2 linked regions of the Homo sapiens genome follow. The protein of the gene in region 1 interacts with the protein of each later gene in a pairwise test. Each region holds a gene or a part of one and is shown on either strand. Other genes may lie near its edges.

Region 1 (10,343 bases):
GGCCAGGCTGGTTTCGAACTCCTGGCCTCACGATCCACCCAAAGTTTGGAAAAATGAAGAGGCTAACAGACAAGAAGTTGAAATGAAGACGCTAGACAAAGTCCAGGAAGTGGACCTGAGACGTTAACTTCAGCTCAGGCCCTCTCAACCTTGACTATACATTAGTGTCATCTGGGAGGCTGAAAAATACATATAACTTCTGAAACCCTGGCCCCGCTCCCTGTCAACTGATTTGGTTGGGGCATCAGGGGCCAAGGGCATCGGAGGCCAGGTCACTGGTGCATTGTAAGTTCTAGAGGTGATTCTAACATGCAGCCAGCAGTGAGAACTGCTGCCAAGGTGTTTTCATGGATGTTCCCACTGGACTTAGTCTTCTCTCTGCCTTGCTGCAGCTGCTCCCTGGTGAGTCGTGGAGGCAGATGTATTAGAACAGCACCTTTGAAAGTGACATGATCAGCTAAAACCTTCAAGCACCCTTAATTACAAATGAACACCCACTGACATCTGCCTCCCTTTAAGGGGGACTCCAAGGACTTGGAAACTTATTTCTCTGGTTGCCATGACAATCCTTTGCAACGTCAGCAAAAATGCTCTGTGCTGCAAACAAGCTAGCACAAAAATCTCCCAAAGTCTTCAGCTCAGAATGAACCTCAACACCAGATCAGGACATGTCACGTCTGAGCCTTTACTCAGGAATCCCAGGAAAGAACCATAGATGTTAGGAAATTCTAAACACTCTCTTCATTTGACCAGGTTTCAGAGATAAAACAAATTGCCTCATGTTGAGGAATAAACTAATACTTTCAAAATTTCTTTTATTCTATCCTTAACTTCCCCATCTTCCCAAAAGATTTTTTTTTTTAATTCAAATAGGAAACAAGTGAAACCAAACAGTTCTAATTTCACCCTGTCATTGACACTCTGGATAGACTCAAGAGTACTTTACTCCTCCAGCTGATAAAGCTTAGCATTTTACCCCTCAGGGACAGGTTTGAATTTGTACCCACACTCCCATCAGTTTTCACACCTAGCAATTCATCTTTAATGATATGGAGTTTAGGCACCATGATAGTTATGTAGGGGAAAATATTAATGAGCTTTTTCTATCACCTTAAAAATCTTGCTTTGGATGGACAACCAAAAAGACTCCACTCTTTTCGGTCCGTATGGTTAAGTCTTAGCTAAATGAAGTGGAAACTGTCCTGAATTAGGGCCTAGGTCCCAGGTATAGCTCTGTCACTCACCAGCTGTGTTACATGACACGAAGCTGTGTGTGCTAAAATCACACATGGCCTTTGTTGTCAGACAGAACTGAGTTCGAGTTCTCACCTCAACTATGTATTATCTATATGACCTGGGGCCACCCTCCATTTCTTCAGCTATAAAATGAGGATAATAATACCTCCTTAACAAGATCGGCATATGGGTATATAAAGCATTTAGCAGTGCCTGGTACATAACATGTGTTGAGTAAATGGTAGCTATGATTATAATAATCTATAAACTGTGAATACTATCTATTCTGCCTACTTCGCAGGAGTGCATATGAAATGAGGGAATTTATATGAAAGTACTTTGAAAAACTACAAAATTTACATACGAGAGGGCTATTTCTAGAGTGGTTTTGTTATTATAAGAGCCTGCTCACTTAAAAAAAAAATCTGTTAAGAATAGCAGACTTGGGTTCTTTTCAAAAACAAATAACCTTTTAAACACTACCACCGCCACCCCATGGGGTTGGATTTCTTACTGAGTAGTGAGGGAACATGTATACCTATCACCGTGTGTGCATCCATCTGTATGCAAATTCCTGCGCTGAATTGTTGCCCTGGGGAAAGGATCATATGATGCAATATGTTTCTTTTCTTCCTAGATCCATGAGGATTTTTGGTTAAAAGCAAGAGAAATAATTGGAGTAGCTAACACAAGAAGACAGTTTTAACAGAGATGGGAGACTCACAAAATAAAATTGGGTAGGGGACAGGGATGGCAGGACCAAACTTGAGAAACAGAAATCTAGGAAATTCACGAGGTTGGGCGGCAAGATTCATGACCAAGAGTCCAGGAAACTGCTGCCACCACCATTACTGTAAGCAAGCAGTCTTAGTATGTCCAATTTCTCTCTTCATCTTTGTCACTTTCGGGTGAGGGAAAGTCCCAGGAGTGAGCATCCAATAGGCTCAACTTAGACAACATCCTTTCTTCAAGGATTTTTGGAGTAGTTGGGGAGTGGCAAATTGTGCAAGAATCTGTCCCTGGGAATTGCCAGGTCACCATACAAAAAAAAAAAAAAATCCCCCAAAAGAAACATGGAGTACAAATAGAAATAAACAAGTCTTCTAGGAAGCCACCTTTTGTCAGCTCTCATTCTACTGATGAAGAAGGTTCAGAGAAGTTATTCAAGGACTTAGTTTCAGGTCTCCTGGTTCCTAATCCATGTTGACCCTCCTACACAAAACCCAGCAATTTATAAAATCATAAGCCATTTCTCCAGCTTTAAATGATGTCTAAGGTGGAGGAGATAGGAGTAAAAGGGACTGACTCTACAGAAAGTGATTTTCTGTTTTCAGGCCTTTTTGATTACATGAGATCAGTACATAAGAATAAATAATGCTAGAATGCAGCTGACCTCCAATGCATGATGGGAGAACCTCATTACTGCAAAACCCTTGGTGATATATATTGAGAAGTGGCTACAATACATTGAATTTTCAGTAGAAACCATTAAGCACTCCTGCATCTAATTGCCATTTTTTCTTATTCAGAGTGCAATAAAAAATAATTTTCCATGCAATAATTTATCTGGCTTTCATCTAAACCTCTATGCCATTCTGTTTCCTCTTTCCTTCCTTGCTTCAGACTGACAGCACTGAGGCCTTTTAGATTTACAGACCCAGACATGAATACACACCTTCCATGTTTCCCCAAGCAACATTCCTGTGCATATTTGAAAACCAGTAGTTAAGAAAAATTATGATGATGTTACAGCTCCAAAGGTTACAGTTGGGAGGAGTTTTGGAGGAGCTGTGCTCTAGCCTGAGGGAAACTGAGGCTTAGAAGATATATGTCAGGTAGATGGAGGTAGGGGCGGGCCAAATGCCATTAAAGACTATGCTGGGTTTTTCATTTGGGATTTCCTTGATCCTTTTATTTCCCATTATTGTTCTCATCCAATCTGGACAGACACTATGAGGGTTTCTTTAAAAGGTTGGAGGTATTGTCTAATCCAGAGGTGGAAATAGTCCCTAAGGGGATAAATCCAGCCCATACATGGGTTTGATCTTGTCCAACAGTCTTGGCCAATACAGTCTTTTAAAAAGTTTTAGTTAATTGGCTGGGTGCAGTGGCTCACGCCTGCAATCCCAGCACTTTGGGAGGCCAAGGCGGGCGGATCATGAGGTCAGGAGATCGAGACCCTCTTGGCTAACGCGGTGAAACCCCATCTGTACTAAAAATACAAAAAATTAGCTGGACGTGGTGGCGGGCGCCTGTAGTCCCAGCTACCTGGGAGGCTGAGGAAGGAGAATGGCGTGAACCCGGAAGGCAGAGCTTGCAGTGAGCCGAGATTGCACCACTGCAATCTCGACAATCCACTGCAATCCAGCCTGGGCGACAGAGCGAGACTCCGTCTCAGAAAAAAAAAAAAAAAAAGTTGTAGTTAATTACCAGCATTTAAAAAAACCAGAGATTTAACATAATCTGAATTTCTGGCCTCTTAATAAAAATCAGGGTCTGGTGTGGTGGCTCACGCCTATAATCCCAGCACTTTGGGAGGCCAAGGTGGGCAGATCACGAGGTTAGAAGTTCGAGACCAGTCTGGCCAACATGGTGAAACCCTGTCTCTACTAAAAATACACAAATTAGCCAGACGTGGTGGTGGGCGCCTGTAATTCCAGCTGCTTGGGAGGCAGGAGAATTGCTTGAACCAGGGAGGCGGAGGTTGCGGTGAGCTGAGATCGCACCACTGCACTCTAGCCTGGGTGACAGAGCAGGACTCAGTCTCGATAAAAAACAAACAAACAAAAAACAGAACATCTGGCAACTCTGGGTGGGTCTCCATTCACATATGGCAAAAATCAGTTGGAGCTGAGCAGTGACTGTCACCTTAGGCAGGTGTGCATACCTCAGTCTGTCACAAGCCCCATCCCTCCTTTCTATTATACCCTGCCAACCTCACTTAGTACATGACTACCCGGCCACGTCGGTATTAAAGTTTGTGATCCTTCAGCTAGTCTTATGCCCTCTTAGTTACTGAGGTTAGAGTCACTCCCTCTTAGTTACTGAGATCATGTACTAACGCTCATGCAGTAAGTGGAAGATGCTGGGTAAGAACCTTCCCGATCTTGGAAATAGTACCATTACTCCACAGTGGCTCAAGCTAAACACCTAGGAGATTTTCTTCTTTCATCCCTTTACGTCAACCCCTGTCATAGTCTATTTTGTGCCAATATAACAGAATATCACAGACTGGGTAATTTATAAGGAACAACAATTTATTTAGCTCATGGCTCTGGAGGCTGGGAAGTCCAAGATTGAGGGGCTGCATCTGGTAAGGGCCTTCATGCTGAGTCACCCCATGGCACAAGGCAGAACAAGAGAGCAGCAGAGGGGTGGGGAGAGGGCCACTCCTGGCATTAATGGAATCACCTCTTAAAGGTCCCACCTCTCAACACTGTTGCATTGGGGATTAAGTTTCCAAGATATGAACTTTGGGGAACATATTTAAACCATAGCATCCCCTAAATCCAGCCTAATCCATCATCAAGCCTTCCTGTGCTACTTTTGACACACATTGCAGGAGGTCCACCTTTTCCGTATCTTGCTGTCACCACCCTGGTCTTCATCACCATAATCTCTTGCCTGAATTGTTCCCTCCAGATTGATATGACAAAGCCCTGACCCTCACGGTGGCCTACAAGGTTCTGGGTGATGGTGATTCCACACTAGTCTACCTCTCTGGCTGTAACCCACTCTCCCCTTGCTCACCTCACTCAGCCACCCTGGGGGCCAGTTCCAGCTTCAGAACCATGCATCGGCCGACCCCTCTGTCAGCAATGCTCTTGCTTCAGCCCTGGAATCGTTTTTGTCCTCCAAGTATCCAATATCACAAGCGGCCCGGAGACCACCCTAGGTATAGCAGTCCTAGACCCCTTTCTTTTTCTTTTCTTTTTTTTGGAGACGGCATCTAGCTCTGTTGCCCAGGCTGGAGTGCAGTGGCTCTAACTCGGCTTACTGTAACTTCCACCTCCCGGGTCCAAGCAATTCTGCCTCAGCCTCCCGAGTAGCTAGGACTACAGGTGAGGGCCACCATGCCCAGCTAATTTTTGTATTTTTAGTAGAGACGGGGTTTTATCATCTTGGCCAGGCTGGTCTTGAACTCCCGACCTCGTGATTCACCTGCCTCGGCCTCCCAAAGTGCTGGGATTACAGGCGTGAGCCACAGGCACCCAGCCGACATTCTCTTGTTTTTTTCGTTTGTTGTATATAACCTACCCCCACCTCCACCCCATGCAAAGTCCACGAGGACGATAGACTTTGTCTTGTTCCCTGTTGCATCCTGGCCCTAGGGCCTAGCCCACAACCTGGGACATTTCCTGACAAGGGGCCCTGGTTTCTCTGAGGTGCCACCTGAGGTCCGGGAGGTCAGCTGACTTTCCCAAAGGTGGATTCCAAGGACACTGCATTCTTCGCACTCCCCGAGGGGCGTCTAGACACTCCTGGGACCCAGAATTATTAGCTAACTGGGCTCCTGAGTCCGGTGAGAGCTCAGAGTCTAGAAGCAACTTTCCCTGCCTGGAGAGGTGAACCCAGCAAGGCGTTGGGGAGAGGCGTGGGCGAGGGAGTGGGCGCGGGTGGGCGGGGCCGTCCGGGGGCCTCGTTGCCCGAGCCAATGGGGCGCCGCGGCGCGGGGAGGCCGGGCCGCCGGGCGGGGGCGCTCGCGCGCGTTGAGGGGCAGAGGCTGAGCTCCCGGGACCCGGAGCGGATCGACTGGCGGGCGCCGCGCCGAGGCACCACCGGGCGCCGAGTTCCTGGCGGCTCGCACGGTAAGCGGCGCGGCGCCGCAAAGTAGACTTTGTGGGGTTTCTGACAGCCGGGAGACCCCACCTCGAGCGGGGGCTGCTGGTGCGTTCTCGCGTCGGGCTGCGTCCCCTGGAGCTCCGGCTCTGTGTCCGCGGGATGCGGGCGCACGGAGGGGCAGGGAGGGAGGCAAGGAGCCGCGCACCACGGTGTCTCCCCAGGCTGCCGCTGCCGGGGCCCTGGGCCGGTCCCTGGGACAGACAGATCGGCGTGCGGGGGCCGTCTGCCGGGCCCGGGAGCCGGGGGCGCGCAAGACTGTGGATCCTAAGACTGCCTCCACCCAGCGCCCGGCCCGGGGAAGAGCTTGCGGGAAACCAGGAACCGCAGCGGCCGGACCTCTGCTCTGCGCCGGCTCCTAGGACCTGCCTTAGGTCCCCAGACCCCTCATGACCTGTTGCCTTGGGTTTGGGAGGTCAGGTTTGTCATGCCATTTCCGATTTCCAGTCATCCTGGGGGCAGGATGAAATTTCAGAGTGGTTTCCTGGCCAAGCTAGAAGCAGAGAATAGCTATGGATACAGCACCTCGTGTATCTATCCAGCACTTACTTGGCTTTTTCTGAGTGCCAGGAACTGTGCCAAGCCCTAGCAGCATGAAGAATGGCCTTTGGGGAGCTTCTGGGGCTAAGAGGGACAGTAGGAGGAGCAATTGCAGTGCAGGGTAGTGCGGAAGACTCGAGATGGAGAAGAGGACGGTGAGGAAGCCAGGAAGGTTTCAGAGAGGAGGTGAGCATTGACTGGAAGTCGGAGGTTTTGCCAGGCTGAAAAGTGTGTTGGGACTGTGAGTTGATAGGGAGCAGGAATTCCAGGTGGGTTTTCTTGTGTAAAGGTAAAGAAACTGAAAAGGTCCGGTGTCCTGACCTAGCACATCAGATAATTCTACAGCAGATAATGGAGTAGGACCGGGTCTTGCTGTAGGTAGGAAATGAGCTCTCGACATGGCAGGAAGCTAAAACCTGCACAGACCTTAAAGTGCAGCCTTAGAATATTTAGAATTTTATCCTGGAATGAAGGAGGGCCGTGGAAGAATTCTGATCAGTGATCAGGTCCCTCTGGCAGCTCTGGGGACAATGGATGGAGGCCGGAGCATCAGAAAGCTGGTAAGTTGTAGTTGTTTTCTGGTCCTTGGCTGCAAATACTCTTCCCTGCTTAAGGGAGCCCCCTCTGCCCGGGAGCCCTGCTCCCTGGCTTCTGGACATGGATTCAGGCAAAGAGATGCTGCCCGTGTAATGCTTGCTTCTGCAGCCTGCACATCATTTTGATATTGTTTCTGGAGCCTGTGACCTCAGTCTTGTCATCAGGCCTCTGAAGGGTGCCTCTGCTCTTCTTTTCTCATCTTCAAGCCCTCTGTGTGCCCTTCCCCTCTGCCTGGGCTCCCCTTTCTGTTTCACAGAGATCCAGTCTCAGCCATTGGAGGCAAGGCTGTGTGTAGATTGGTGTAGTAGAAAGAACAAGGGCTCGCTGGGAAATCAGACCAGAAAGTCACTTTAGCCATAGGCTTTGGGGACATTAGCAACCTTCATGAACCTTCTTTTTCTGATTTAAAAGGAAATCATTGTACTCACCTGTCATGGTTTGGGTTCCCTGGAAAAAGACTTGGCGCTTCTGAGATTTTTGTGCAGATAAGGGAAGCAGAACTGGGCAGAGGGAGATGTTGATCTATGGTGCAGTGCAAGAGAGGTCTCAATCCCTCCCATGAGACAAAGAGACGAGGCCTTTGAAGCTTAATGTTGATCAGCCAGTGGGTGCAGGCTGGTCCTAGGGAGGGAGCTAGGATGTCCCTTCAGCAGGACAGTTCCTGACTAGGGACTCACCTGGGAGCTGGGGTAACCAACACTCTGGCAGCTGGACATGGGGAAGTCATGAGTGTCTTGGTCTTGGAGGGGGAGTTGAGCATTTCCCCACGGTATCCACTACACTACCTCACAAATGAAGTAGTGCTTTGTACTGTGCCTGGTGCATAGTAGATATCTTAAAAGTATTCATTTCTCTCACCTTTAAGTTTCATGACTGCACCTGAAAATGAGTTTTGGAATTCGAGTTGAGTCAGCTTTTGTGAGGAGCTTTTAATAATAATAGCCACGAAGACTACTGCTTCCCTTTTTTGAGTGTCTATTATGTATATACATTCTCTTCTAGTTGTCCAATAATACTCCAACTTAGGTACTTTTATTCTCATTTTATAGTAAACCCAGTCTCTTCCAAAACCCAACCAAGTTGATGTTCTTTTGCCACAAAATAATAATTATAATAATAACAATCACTCACAACTCTATGATTTGTTACACTTTCCAAAGTGCTTTCATTGGTGGATTGATTGATTAATCATTCATTCATCCACTAATTAATCAATCAATGTGTATTGAGTGTCTCTTAAGGAGTAGGCGCTATCCTAGGTGATGGGGAGAAAGCTCAGTCTATTAGAGGAGATAGACATTAAATGCTTGGATTCATCAAAAGCAAGTGTTGAGGGGTGGAACATTGCATTGCATAGCCAGTATGTGATAGAGAATAACAGGCTCTTTGTCCAATTGACTCCTTGCCTTCAGTTTCAATATAACCTTCTTGGAAAGGCCTTCTGTACTCCCTCCCTTTTATTCTCCCTTCGTAACAGTCATTTATCTATTTTATTTACTTTCCTATTGTTGGTCCTCCCCTTTAGACTGCAGACTCCAGGGGATCATACATTGCTTCATCCCAAGAGCCTACCACAGGGTTTAGCACATATTTCTTAAATGAGTGAAATGAATGAAGGGTGGATGTGCTTAACAGTGTAGTCAGGGAAGGTCTCCCAAAGTAGTGATATTTACACTGAGATCTGGGGAATGAGAAAGATCCGGCAACGCCAAGATCAAGAGGCAGAGAGAACAGCTTATTCAAAGACCGCGAGGTGGAGGAATGGAGGCTATTGTGGTTGGAGCGCATAGTGGGCAAATTGTGTGGAGTGGCCCGAGATGAGTTTGAAGGCAGTGGAGTCTTGGAGGCCATGCTGAGCTTACATTTTTATCTAAAGTGCAACAAACGAATCATTGAAGGATTTTAAGCCTGATGTGATAGTGTATATTTGTGTGTTGTCTGTTATGCCTCTGGGAGGAGAACTCCTTGAAGAAAGGTGCTTAGTAAATAGTGCTTAAATGAATGGATGATCTGGTTTATGTTTTAAAAGGAGTCAATCTCAGCTTCCAGGTGAGAAGTGGAATAGAGAGAAGAAAGATCTTGTCACAGTTGGAAGCTCAGTGAGATATATATTGGTGTCTGGGCTAGAGGACAGCAATAGTGTTGGAGAAAAGTAAAAGGGTTTGAGCTCTATTTAGGAAGCAAAATGGACAGGACTTGCTGATACTTTAAATGCAGGGAATATGGGAAAAGGGTGGGGATGAAGGATGGTGGCCAGCCTTATGGTTTCAGATTGGTTGGCTACTGAAAGTCTGGCAGCTCCATCAGTAAGTGACTGAATAAACAAAATGTAGTATAACATACAATAGAATGTTACTCAGCCATAACAAGGAGTGAAGTACTAATACATGCTGCAATGTGGATGAACCTTAAAAATGCTATGTGAAAACGTGGTTTAAAAGCCAGACACAAAAGGTTACATAGTGTATGATTCCCTTTATGTGAAGCATCCAGAATAGGTCAATCCATAGAGACAGAAAACAGATTGGTGTTTGTGCTGATCTGAGGGGGAAGTGGGACTGGGGCTTGACTGCTTAATGGCTAAGTGGTTTCCTTTTGAGGTGATGAAAATGTTTTGGAACTAGATAGAGGCGACAGTTTGTACATCATCATGAGGATAGTAAATGCCACGCATTGTTAGTTTAAAATGGCTAGCTTTTAGTTATGTAAATTTCACCTAATTAAAAAAACAAACAAACAAAAGTTGGGTGGATGGGAGCACTATTCACATAACAGAGACTAGGCGAGGAGCAGGTTGTGCTTAGAGGATACAATTCAAATACCCTCTTGGAGATGCCCGTAAAACATCCACATAGAGACAGGAATTGGCTGTGAGTCTGGAGTCGAGGAGGGGAGTCTGGGCTGGAGATATAAATATGGCAGTTGTCAGCACTTAGATGTCAGCCAATAAAATGGATGAGTTCGAGTGTGAGAGAGAGAGGAGGAGAAAATCAGAGCTTTGGATCATTCTTTAATTTGATCTTTATAACTATTCATAGGAGATGCGATTGTCCTCATTTTTAGATAAGGACACCAACCCCCTCTCCCGTGTCCAAACGAACTTGCCCAAAATCAGTTCGTTCCTGTGAGTC
Region 2 (10,511 bases), on another chromosome or scaffold:
GGAATATTAGTTTTCATGTTACAGTTTTCTAAGTTACTCATGGCCTTTTATTGTTTTGCTTTTTTAACAGAAATTAAAATCTAAATCTTCAGGTAACACATCTGTCAGAGCTTCCATTGAAGGCCTTGGTAAAAGGTAAGTTGAGATTGCTTTGGTGAATTATACACACTATTGAGCAAACACTATGAGCATAGTCTAGTAGATTTTGTTACCATTTAAACAGCAGTGACATTGAACAACAAAGCATTGGTTGGCCTTCAGGAGAAAGACCAATAGCAATATCTTCAGTGTTCTTATGGTCTGTGACCCCCTTTGTGTAAAGGAAATTAAATGGGGGATTATTGCTATTGTAAATAATTTTCTGCCATTTAAAAAAAGTGTGAACAGTTTCTCAAAATTAATGTTCTGTTATATTCTTCAGTATTTACTTTGTCCCTTACATTATTTGGCAAACACATTTTTCTTTTACTCATTTTAATTCCTTGAGTGTTCCTGAATGTACAGGTTATATCCAATAAAGCAGTGATCCTACAATAAATATCTCTTCTTTGAAATGGTTGGCTTGCTAGGGAAAATAGACAATTTGATTACAAGAACATAAAGTCAATAAAACCAAAAATTTTTTTAACATGGCCAAATTAACTTCTCCTATTTTTTGTTATAACTTCATATTTTTGCATCTGTTGAACACATCTAGTTGCAGTCCGGTGTACCTTGGTGGAAGCTCTATTCCATGTGGGATTGGAACAAATATTTCATGGAGGTAGGTTGTCAGAAATGTATTATACTTTCTTACTAGGTTTTTTCCAAATGGATGCCCCATTGTTAAAATGTAGTTATCATCTTCACATCAATCTGTTTTATAAGGAGAGGTATTTTTATTAGCTAATCTAAGAATTCTTTGTTTTTTATTCTTGGGAGATAGCTATTGAAAGCTGTGATGTTAGGTACATATTATTCATTTTATGCCCTTTTCTAAGCCCCACTTGAAATGCCTGGATCACTCCAGTCCCAGCTTTGTTTCCACAGGACACAGGAGAGTGAACTTCCTTCCAGGCAGTGGAAGCAAAGTGGCCATGCAGATACATGATGCCTTACCCACACTGCCTTGGCCAATTAGCATGCAAAGCTACAGGTCTGCATTGCCCAAAACATTCTCAAGCGTAGTTGCTTGATTTTACATGTTTACATATTTCAAAAACAAAAACCTTATGTTCTTTGTCTCTTCCCTGCCCTTCCTGCCTCCACTTTCTCACTCAGTACCTCTTTCTGGGCAGTCTTATAGTCATGATGCCACCTACCCCAAACCCATATTAGCCCCATAGTCCTAGCACATTCCATTGGCATTTTCATAATGTGGGCAAACAGTTTGGCTTTAAGCAAACCCTACTCTCCTGCTGCTTTTGGTTCTATTTTTGGCAGAGGTCTACTTACCTAACTTACTTTATTAAAATACTTTTATCTAATTATTTCTAAAACACTTATTTTCTGTTAATTTTTTAAGAAAGAATGGCCTAAGTTATATGATTGCATGTTGACCACATTTCTGGAGGGCTAACTGTTGTATAGTCAAGTGTCACCAACAAGGATACATTCTGAGAAATATGTCATTAGTCATAAGTCATTATGACTTCCTCATGTACAAACATCATAGAGTGTACTTACACAAACCTAGATGATATAGCCTACTCCACACCTAGGCTAGGTGGTATACTAGCCTACTACATACTACTAGGCTATAAACCTGTGTAGCATGTAACCGCACTGAATACAGTAGGCAGTGGTAACACAATGGTAAATATTTGTGTATCTAAATATTAAAAAGGTACAGCAAAAATACATTGTAAAAGATTTTTCAAATGGTACAGCTGTATAGGGCACTTAGCATGGACAGAGCTTGCAGGACTGGAAGTTGCTCTGAGTGAGTGAATGAGTGGTGAGTGACTGTGAAAGCCTAGGATATTACACTAGTATAGACTTTATAAACACTGTAGCTTAGGCTACACTAAGTTTACTTTTAAATGTCTTTAATAATATTAACCTTAGCTTACTGAAACTTCATTTATAAATTTTTTTATTTTTTTAACTTTTGATTCTTTTTAATAACAATTTAAAATACATCGTACAGCTATACTAAAATATTTTCTTTCTTTGTATCCTTATTCTATAAGCTTTTTTCTATTGTTTCATTGTTTTTTACTTTTTTTTTTTTTTTTTTTTTGAGACAGAGTCTCGCTCTGTCGCCCAGGCTGGAGTGCAGTGGCGCAGTCTCGGCTCTCTGCAAGCTCCGCCTCCCAGGTTCACGCCATTCTCCTGCCTCAGCCTCCCGAGCAGCTGGGACTACAGGTGCCCGCCACCACGCCCGGCTAATTTTTTGTATTTTTAGTAGAGACGGGGTTTCACTATGTTATCCAGGATGGTCTCCATCTCCTGACCTCATGATCTGTTCTCCTCGGCCTCCCACGGTGCTGGGATTACAGGCGTGAGCCACTGCGCCCAGCTCTGTTTTTCACTTTTTAAACTTTTTTGTTAAAAATGAAGACACAACACTCACATTAGCCTGGGCCTATACAGGGTCTGGGTCATCCATATCACTGTCCTGCACTTCCACATCTTGCGCCACAGGAAGGTCTTTGTTGCGGGGGTACAACACGCATGGGGCTGTCATCTCATAGTAACAGTGTGCCTTCTTCTGAAATACCTCCCGAAGGACCTGCCTGAGGCTGTTTTACAGTTAACTTTTTTTAATAAGTAGAAGGAGTACATTCTCAAATAATGATTCAAAGTATAGCATAGTAAAAGTATGAACCAGTAACATAGTTTATTATCATTATCAAGTATTATGTACTATACATAACTGTATGCACTACTTTTATACAACTGGCAGCTCAGTAGGTTTGTTTACATCAGCGTCACCACAAACACATGAGTAAGCATTGTGCTATATAGGACAGCTATGATGTAACTAGGAATAGGAATTATTTAGCTCCGTTATAATTCTATAGGACCACTGTTGTATATGTGGTCCGTCATTGACCAAAACATCACTGGGGCAAATTAATTATATTGAATAATAGAAGTGGGAGTTAAAAAAAACATTGTTGGAGGGTTGTGGTGGTGCCAGCCTACATCGAAGGACAATGCCCAGAAGGTAGGGCTATAGGACAAAAGTGAAATTAGGAGTCTGGAGAAGCCTTATATGGGAACACCAGGCAGCCAACAGGCTAATATAAATCCACTGGAATGTTACCTACTGTTAGAGCTATAAAGAAGAATTAATAGTAATTGAATCACCATGTGTTGAGGACTCTCTGTACAAAAAAATTAGAGATACAAACTGCCTGTAGAGGTAGTGTTGTTGCTGTCAGTCCTAAATTGCCTGTCTCAACTCAGTTGGGACTTGTCTCCGTCATTTTCAGAGCCATGCCTCCTCTATTCCAGGCATCTCTCAAGTCACCCATGAGCCACAGCAGCAGTTTCCCAGTTATCATCCACTTACATCTTTTCTAATATCACCCACATATAGCATTCAAGATAATATCCCTAAAATACTATTCTGAGTGCCTCTCCTCTATTCAGAAGGGAAGTGAGAGTTGCCATTTGTCTCACATTAACTCTAAACTCACTATTTGCTTTACCAAATTGTTATCCTTGTTGTTCCTCTTCTCTCTTTAGTTCCTTCAGCTCCAATTAAAGCCTGGGTCAGATATTCCACTGCCACTGGGATGCTTGTCATTCTGTACTTTCCACTTATGTTTTTCTGTGTCTGAGTATATTTACATTTATTCCCTATCTGGAACAACACTCCCTTCTAATGCATGTCTCCTGCTGCCTTATCTGTTTAATTCACACACTGCAGATTGATTTTTCTATTTAAATTTTTTCGATTTTTTAAATCCATTGAATGCCCATGTCCTAAACCCTGTGCTAGCTTATCAATAAAAGGCAAAACACTGGCCAGTAAGGAACAAAGAAGCAAATGATTACTCCTGTGGCCTGAAATGGAAGGGCTCTGATGACAGAATGCCTGAGTTCAAAGCCTCACTCTGCCACTTACAAGCTCTGAAGCCTTAAGAAGGGATGTTATCTTCTAAAACCTGTTTCCTCACTCTTAAAAACTAAACATATTTCATGGAGATACTCTGAGGATTAAATGAAATAATACATGAAAACTATGCCTATGGTGCAAAAGACAGCTAGGTACTGCAGGCACACTGGGTTCTAATTAAGGTGTCTTTCTCATCCATTAGTCCTGCTTTCTTGTTACGTTATATCTCAGGGACAAGAATCTTTATTCTACTACTAGTTTTCCATTTTATCTCAGGAAATACATATAATTACAGGTGCCTTCTGTTTTTACAAATGATCTTTTAAAAAAATACATTCTGGTTTACTTCTAAAAAGTAAACATTTCATTAAGATTTTCTTATGTATGAAATATTTTGTACGTACTTTGATTTAGTTGTAGCACAGACAAAATCTATGTTAGATGGAATTTCAGTAAACCAAAGAACAGCCTGTTTTCATAGCTCGAGGCTCCTATCACATACTATTAGTCCAAGTGGGATGCCGAAATCAATTATACCTGATTTCTACCTCCTGCACAGCTGTAAGAAGAGATACCAGTTGCATATATATGCGCAGGTAAATGTTTGTATTCACAGATTTTTTATTAGTTGCCCCTTTCATGAAACAGAATTTGCACCCATAGAAAGACAAACACATGTGTTCATCTGCATATGCAAATTTTATGTGTGAAGTACTTTATACTGTCCAGAGCACTTTTTATATATGCATATTGACTTACCTGCTCCACAAGAGAAAAACCCAAGATGCTGATCAAGAATTTTTACCTCCATTTTATAAATGAAGAGATTGAGGTACTTGTGTTAAATTCATCAAACACATATTAACCACCTGATAGGTCCTAAGGATTAAATGAACAAATTTTGATGAACAAATAAATGGACACTTCCTGTCTTCAATGAGCTTTCAGTCTAGATGAGGAGATGGGCTTTAAATAGATTATTCCACAAATAAGTATTTATTTTCCATTTGATATGTGACATAAAGGGAACATATGGGATACTATAAGCATAGATAATGGACACTCTAACTAATATGAAGGGTCAGGGAATACTTCTCTGAGCAGATAATCAAACCACAATATGAAAAATGAGTAGGAGTTAGACAAAGAGAGGTGACCATTGGAGCCAGAGCACACGCATGTTTAGAAGCTCCCTGAGAAGGGGAGGAGCTGGGGGTGTTCCTCTGGTGGAAGGAACAGAGAGTATCTGGCCATGCTGGAGCATAATGAGTAGGGAAAGAATGGCCACTGACTGGGCTGGAGAGAGAGTGGAGGGACATTTGGCTTAGGGTCCTGTAATCCTTTTGAGGATTTTGGAAAAAGTTTGTCCTGTGTTCAATGGGCCAGATTTGTGTTTCTTAAAAAAGTCATGTTGGCTGCTGTGCAGAAAATGGCTTGGGAGTTGGAGGGGCAAGACAGGAAAGGACACAGGAAGACTAGTCAATGGGCAGTAGTTAGAGTGGTCCAGGAAAGAGAAGATGGGAGCTGTGACCTGCGTGGTAGCAATGGCTATAGGGAAAAGGTCAAATTTGAAATATTTAGAATATAGAATTGACAGAATTCAGTGATTGACTAAGGAGGGTAAGAAAGAAAGTTGTTAAGAATGACTCCCAAATAAGGTGCCTTGCTCAAGGTCATATCAGTTATTGCAAAGCAAGGATCCAGATTGGTTACTTGATTCCTAATCCATTATGCTTTCTATTATACCACTTAGCAGAAAGCCATGTAATATGGGAAGAATCTTAGCTGATGTTGCTGTTGGAACTGCTGTTATCTTCAAACTATCCAGACATCAAGTTTCTTTAGTCCCATTGTGCAGATCTGATAGGATTTAACAGAGAACCACAGTGTCTGGGCAGAAGATTGTATTGGGTTGGATTTGGGGCATTCCTGTCGTAAACATCTTTAAAATAGTGAATTCTACTTTTTAGCTGGACAAAAGAACAAAGCTCTTGGTGACATCTTATGTGTGATTCCCTCTACATTTTAGAGGGAAAGACCTGACAGTTTGTCTTTCACTGGAGTCATGACTTTATATTAGATATGCTTTTATGTACATAGTTATGAAAGAGAAATATATTTCAGCCCTGAAAAGAGTACTGATTTACATGGCCAGGGCATAAAGGAAATTGAATCTATCCTGCCTATTTGCGTTGTTTGATTTCTAGATACAGCTCTGGCTTGAGGTAATGCTGAATGACTTTAGATTTTAGAAAAAGATTTGTCTTTCACTTGTTGGTGGAAAAGGGGAGAGAATAGTAGTAGGAAGCATGGTGGCAGTAATAAGTACTACAGATAAAACGAAGGCATTTTCAAGCCAATCGAATTTTACTCTCAATTATTTTTTAAACAACTTGCAAGACTGGATTATTCCATAGACTGGTACTAATTATGATCTAATAGAGTAAATCGTAGCAGTGGAATGATTTCTTAGCTGCAAGTTAGTTTTATGTTTCTCAAAGGACAGTGTTTGTAGGAAAATGTGGTGGTGTGAATAGATTTGAATAAACTACTAAATTTTAAATTAAATTAAAAAGCTGTATTTAGCATTATGGTTGAGATTTTACACATACAAAATGTCAGGAAATTCTAAATTATAGTTCCCACAACAGCAATAATTCAGCCAAATTGCACATATGTATTAAGGCATTAAAGTTAACACTCTGTGCAATCATGTAATAAACTATATATGCATAAGAAAGCAGGTCATAGTAGCTTTGGGAACTATCAATTTGCATTTCCTGACTTGTACATTCGAAGTCTGAGTTCAAATGTGTACAAATGTAGTTGTTGAATTTCCAAATGTAGAAATGCAACTTCATAAATTGCTAACAGTTTGAAAGAAAATATGGACTTGCCTATGAAACTTGTATAGGTTTTAAATGTTTCATTATTATTATGGTTAATAGTATTTTTAGAAATACAAAGCATTTATTCTCAAAGAAATTTTCAGGCCAAAAGTATTTGCATTTTGAAATTAGCGTATCTGAACTTTGAAGGGAAATAAATGAAAAAAATCTAATGATGAGTTTATTTTTTCATTACAGAAGTATTATGTGCTTAATGAAAGAATAAAAACAAAATTGAAACATGTATAAAGAAAAAGATAATAATCTCCCTTCCTTCCCTTCAACCACTCCTGATGCAACCAGGGTTACTGTGTAGTATATAACTTTCTACATTTTGCTCCATGTTCTTTTTTTTTTGAGACAGAGTCTCGCTTTGTCGCCCAGGCTGGAGTGCAGTGGCGCGATCTCCCCTCACTGCAATCTCCGCCTCCCGGGTTCACGCCATTCTCCTGCCTCAGCCTCCTGAGTAGCTGGGACTACAGGCGCCCGCCACCATGCCCAGCTAATTTTTTTGTATTTTTAGTAGAGATGGGGTTTCACTGTGTTAGCCAGGATGGTCTCGATCTCCTGACCTCGTGATCCGCCCGCCTCAGCCTCCCAAAGGGCTGGGATTACAGGCGTGAGCCACCGCGCCCGGCCATTTTGCTCCATGTTCTTATAAACTTCTAGCCACCTATATAGGAATTTTTTGTGGGGGTCGTTTTTACAAAAATAGGATCATGCTATATATGTTAGTGTGCACCTTGCTTCAGATATCCCTCCAGGTTAGTATATAGTCTAGTTATCATGAGCATTGTTTGTTTCTTCTCTCACTGCAATCAAAGCTCTATGAAGACAGAATCTCATTAGCACATACCAGACTCTCAATAAATATTTTTTGAGTGAATGAATGCATTATGCCAAGTTGTGAGGAAGCAAACAAATACAATCTTTTCCCAGCGCTTAAGCAGCTTATCTGAAAAACAGATTCATTTCAATGTCATGTGACATATTCTTCGGTAGAGATATTCCTGAAAATTTCAGTAGGAAGGGGAGCATTTAAAGAAGTTAGCTTATATGACGATCTCCCTCAGACGTAATTTGAAAACCATGGAATTAAAAGATCTACAAATCTATTTTCTTTCATATCTATATAATATATGTGTAAGTTCAGTGTACAAGATCATAGTAAAATAGGTAGGTTTGTGCAAAAATTTAACCTTAAGGTTTAGACCGTAAATAATGCTTTAGTATAAAGATTTATAATCAGATTAATCTGTACTTTTCTGTTGTTTATTCAGTAATCTGTAATATGTGGTGTATCCTATAAATAAATCACCATGTTTTCATTGGTATTTAAAGATACCAATAATCTTTAATATACAATTTTTTTTCTCTGAACAGAGCATGTGACCATCTGCGTTGTATAGCCTGTGATTTCTTGGTAGTCAGCTATGATGACTATATGTGGGACAAATCGTGTGATTATCTGTTTTTCAGGTATGTTGCTAAAGAACTTCACTCTGAAAAAAGTACCAAGTAGTTTATATTTCCTATTTTGATATATTCTCTCTGGGTGGATTCAGCCAGATCTTGTGGGCTTCACCTCTTCAGTATAGTCATGTGCTGCGTTATGATGCTTCAGTCAACGATGGACTGCATATATATATATACATGGTGGTTCCATAAGATTATGACGGAGTTGAAAAATTCCTATCACCTAGTGACATCATAGCCTTTGTAATATTATACTGCAATGCATTGCACATGTTTGTGGTGATGCTGGTATAAACAGTAACATGCTGTAGAGGTTTGTAGCCTTGGAACAGTAGCCTATACCATATAGCCTAGGTGTGTGGTAGGCTATACCATCTAGGTTTGTATAAATTCACTCTTTGATATTCCCACAATGATGGAATTGCCTAACAAAGCATAAGCAATGCATGACTGTGTTTCTGTCATCCATCTCCTTCTCTCCATCTGCCTGCTGTCAGCCTAGATAAGGACATGTTACTTCTGGACAAGAATACAGAAGTAACCTCCTCACTGGTTTTTCTGGCTACAATCTCTTCTCTCAGACCATCCTTCCCTTGTTCAGAATTAAAGCATAGCTCAGAGTATACCGTCCTCCTGCTCAACACCCTTCCACTTACAGAATAATGTCCAAATTCCTTAGCATGGCATTCATGACCCTCCATAATCCAGCTCCCATCCATCCATCATCCAGCTTTGTCTTCCCACAATGTATATTTCACCTTTGCAAGATTTTAGCTACATCAGAGTACTCAAGGCTCCCATTCCCTCTGACTTTGTACAACCTCTTTACCTCTTGGGATGCCTTCCCACCATTTTATCTACCTAAACCCTACCTGTCCTTCAGAGTATAATTCATCACATGTCTTCCATGATTCTTTCACCACTCTCTCAACTGGAAGAAAACTCTTCCCTTCCTGTGTATTCACGGTGCTTTGGACCTATTATATACTGTAATATAAAACTGAAGCTCTTAGGTTGGTGTATGACTACCTCCCTCCTTGTGGCTGAGATAATGTCTTGCTCATATTTATATAATTTGTACATTCTTATACACTTACAGAATACCTACTATCTTTAAGGTGTTACAAGTTATAAAAATATATTTGAACTTTACATTGACATTTTCAAATAAAAATTTAAAGCTAAAAATTAATACAGTGTAATATTGCAGCACTTTTCAATAGCATAAAGAAAAGGGTAAGAGACTTTCCCCTACGCCTTTTTTGGCAGCCATTCTTGGGTAAATCTATGAGTATACCCTAATTTAATAGTTTTTAAACTTTTTCACATCAAGAACCACTTTGCAAATCTTATGAAAGCTTTGAATGCCCCTCATACACATACAATTCAAATATAAAAATACATGGAAAAATTATAACTTGAAAAATTTTACAGTTTCCAACCCAAATAAAGCCTAATGTACTCCCAAAATCTGAGGTTAGGAACCCATACTTTTAGGCTTAGCCCACTTTTTACCCCATAAGTGGAAAAGTTGGCTTTTAATTACAGGTTGACTTTCCCTTTTCTGACTTTTCTAAACCCTCTGCTATTTACTGTCTACTAGTTAATCTAATAAGTGGTTAATAATCCCCATATGTCACCAAGATGAAGCATGAATTTTTATAAAACTATCATAGGATAATAAAATGCATGTAACATCAAGGCAGTGGTGAACACAGGCATAAAGTAAACTATGGATAACCTAGTCGGTACTTGAGGAACTTGCAGCATCTCAGAGTTATCAAGAACACCAGTTGGTTTACCCTAGATCTGTGGCAGCCTGGTTTAAAAAATATATGTACTTTTAGATAAAACAGTGACAACTAGAGGATTTATTATACTATTAAAAATAAACAAGTAGTCATTATTTAAATCAGTAGAAAATACTGTCTCAGTTCTCAAGACACTTAGGAATATGTTTGGGAGATAAGAGAATGGAACAGCTAAAGAATAAGGCGGTCTCCACCATTAGGATATAAATCACTGATAGATTTATTTTGTACAATATATTGGTGTTTACCAGTAGACATTATTCAGCACCTAGTCTATGACACTCTTAG

The links.
Region 2: the proteins of SYN3 (region 1) and CFAP418 interact in a two-hybrid assay, tested with the Homo sapiens proteins (one study listed by IntAct).

Annotation. Positions count from the first base shown.
Region 1 is NC_000022.11:33,053,993-33,064,335, reverse strand, and holds the start of SYN3 (synapsin-3), read left to right. Parts: upstream 1-5,954; 5' UTR 5,955-6,044; exon of another isoform or gene 6,045-7,175; intron 7,176-10,343. UniProt on the Homo sapiens protein: May be involved in the regulation of neurotransmitter release and synaptogenesis.
Region 2 is NC_000008.11:95,250,092-95,260,602, reverse strand, and holds part of CFAP418 (cilia- and flagella-associated protein 418), read left to right. Parts: intron 1-70; coding exon 71-135; intron 136-697; coding exon 698-763; intron 764-8,319; coding exon 8,320-8,415; intron 8,416-10,511. UniProt on the Homo sapiens protein: May be involved in photoreceptor outer segment disk morphogenesis.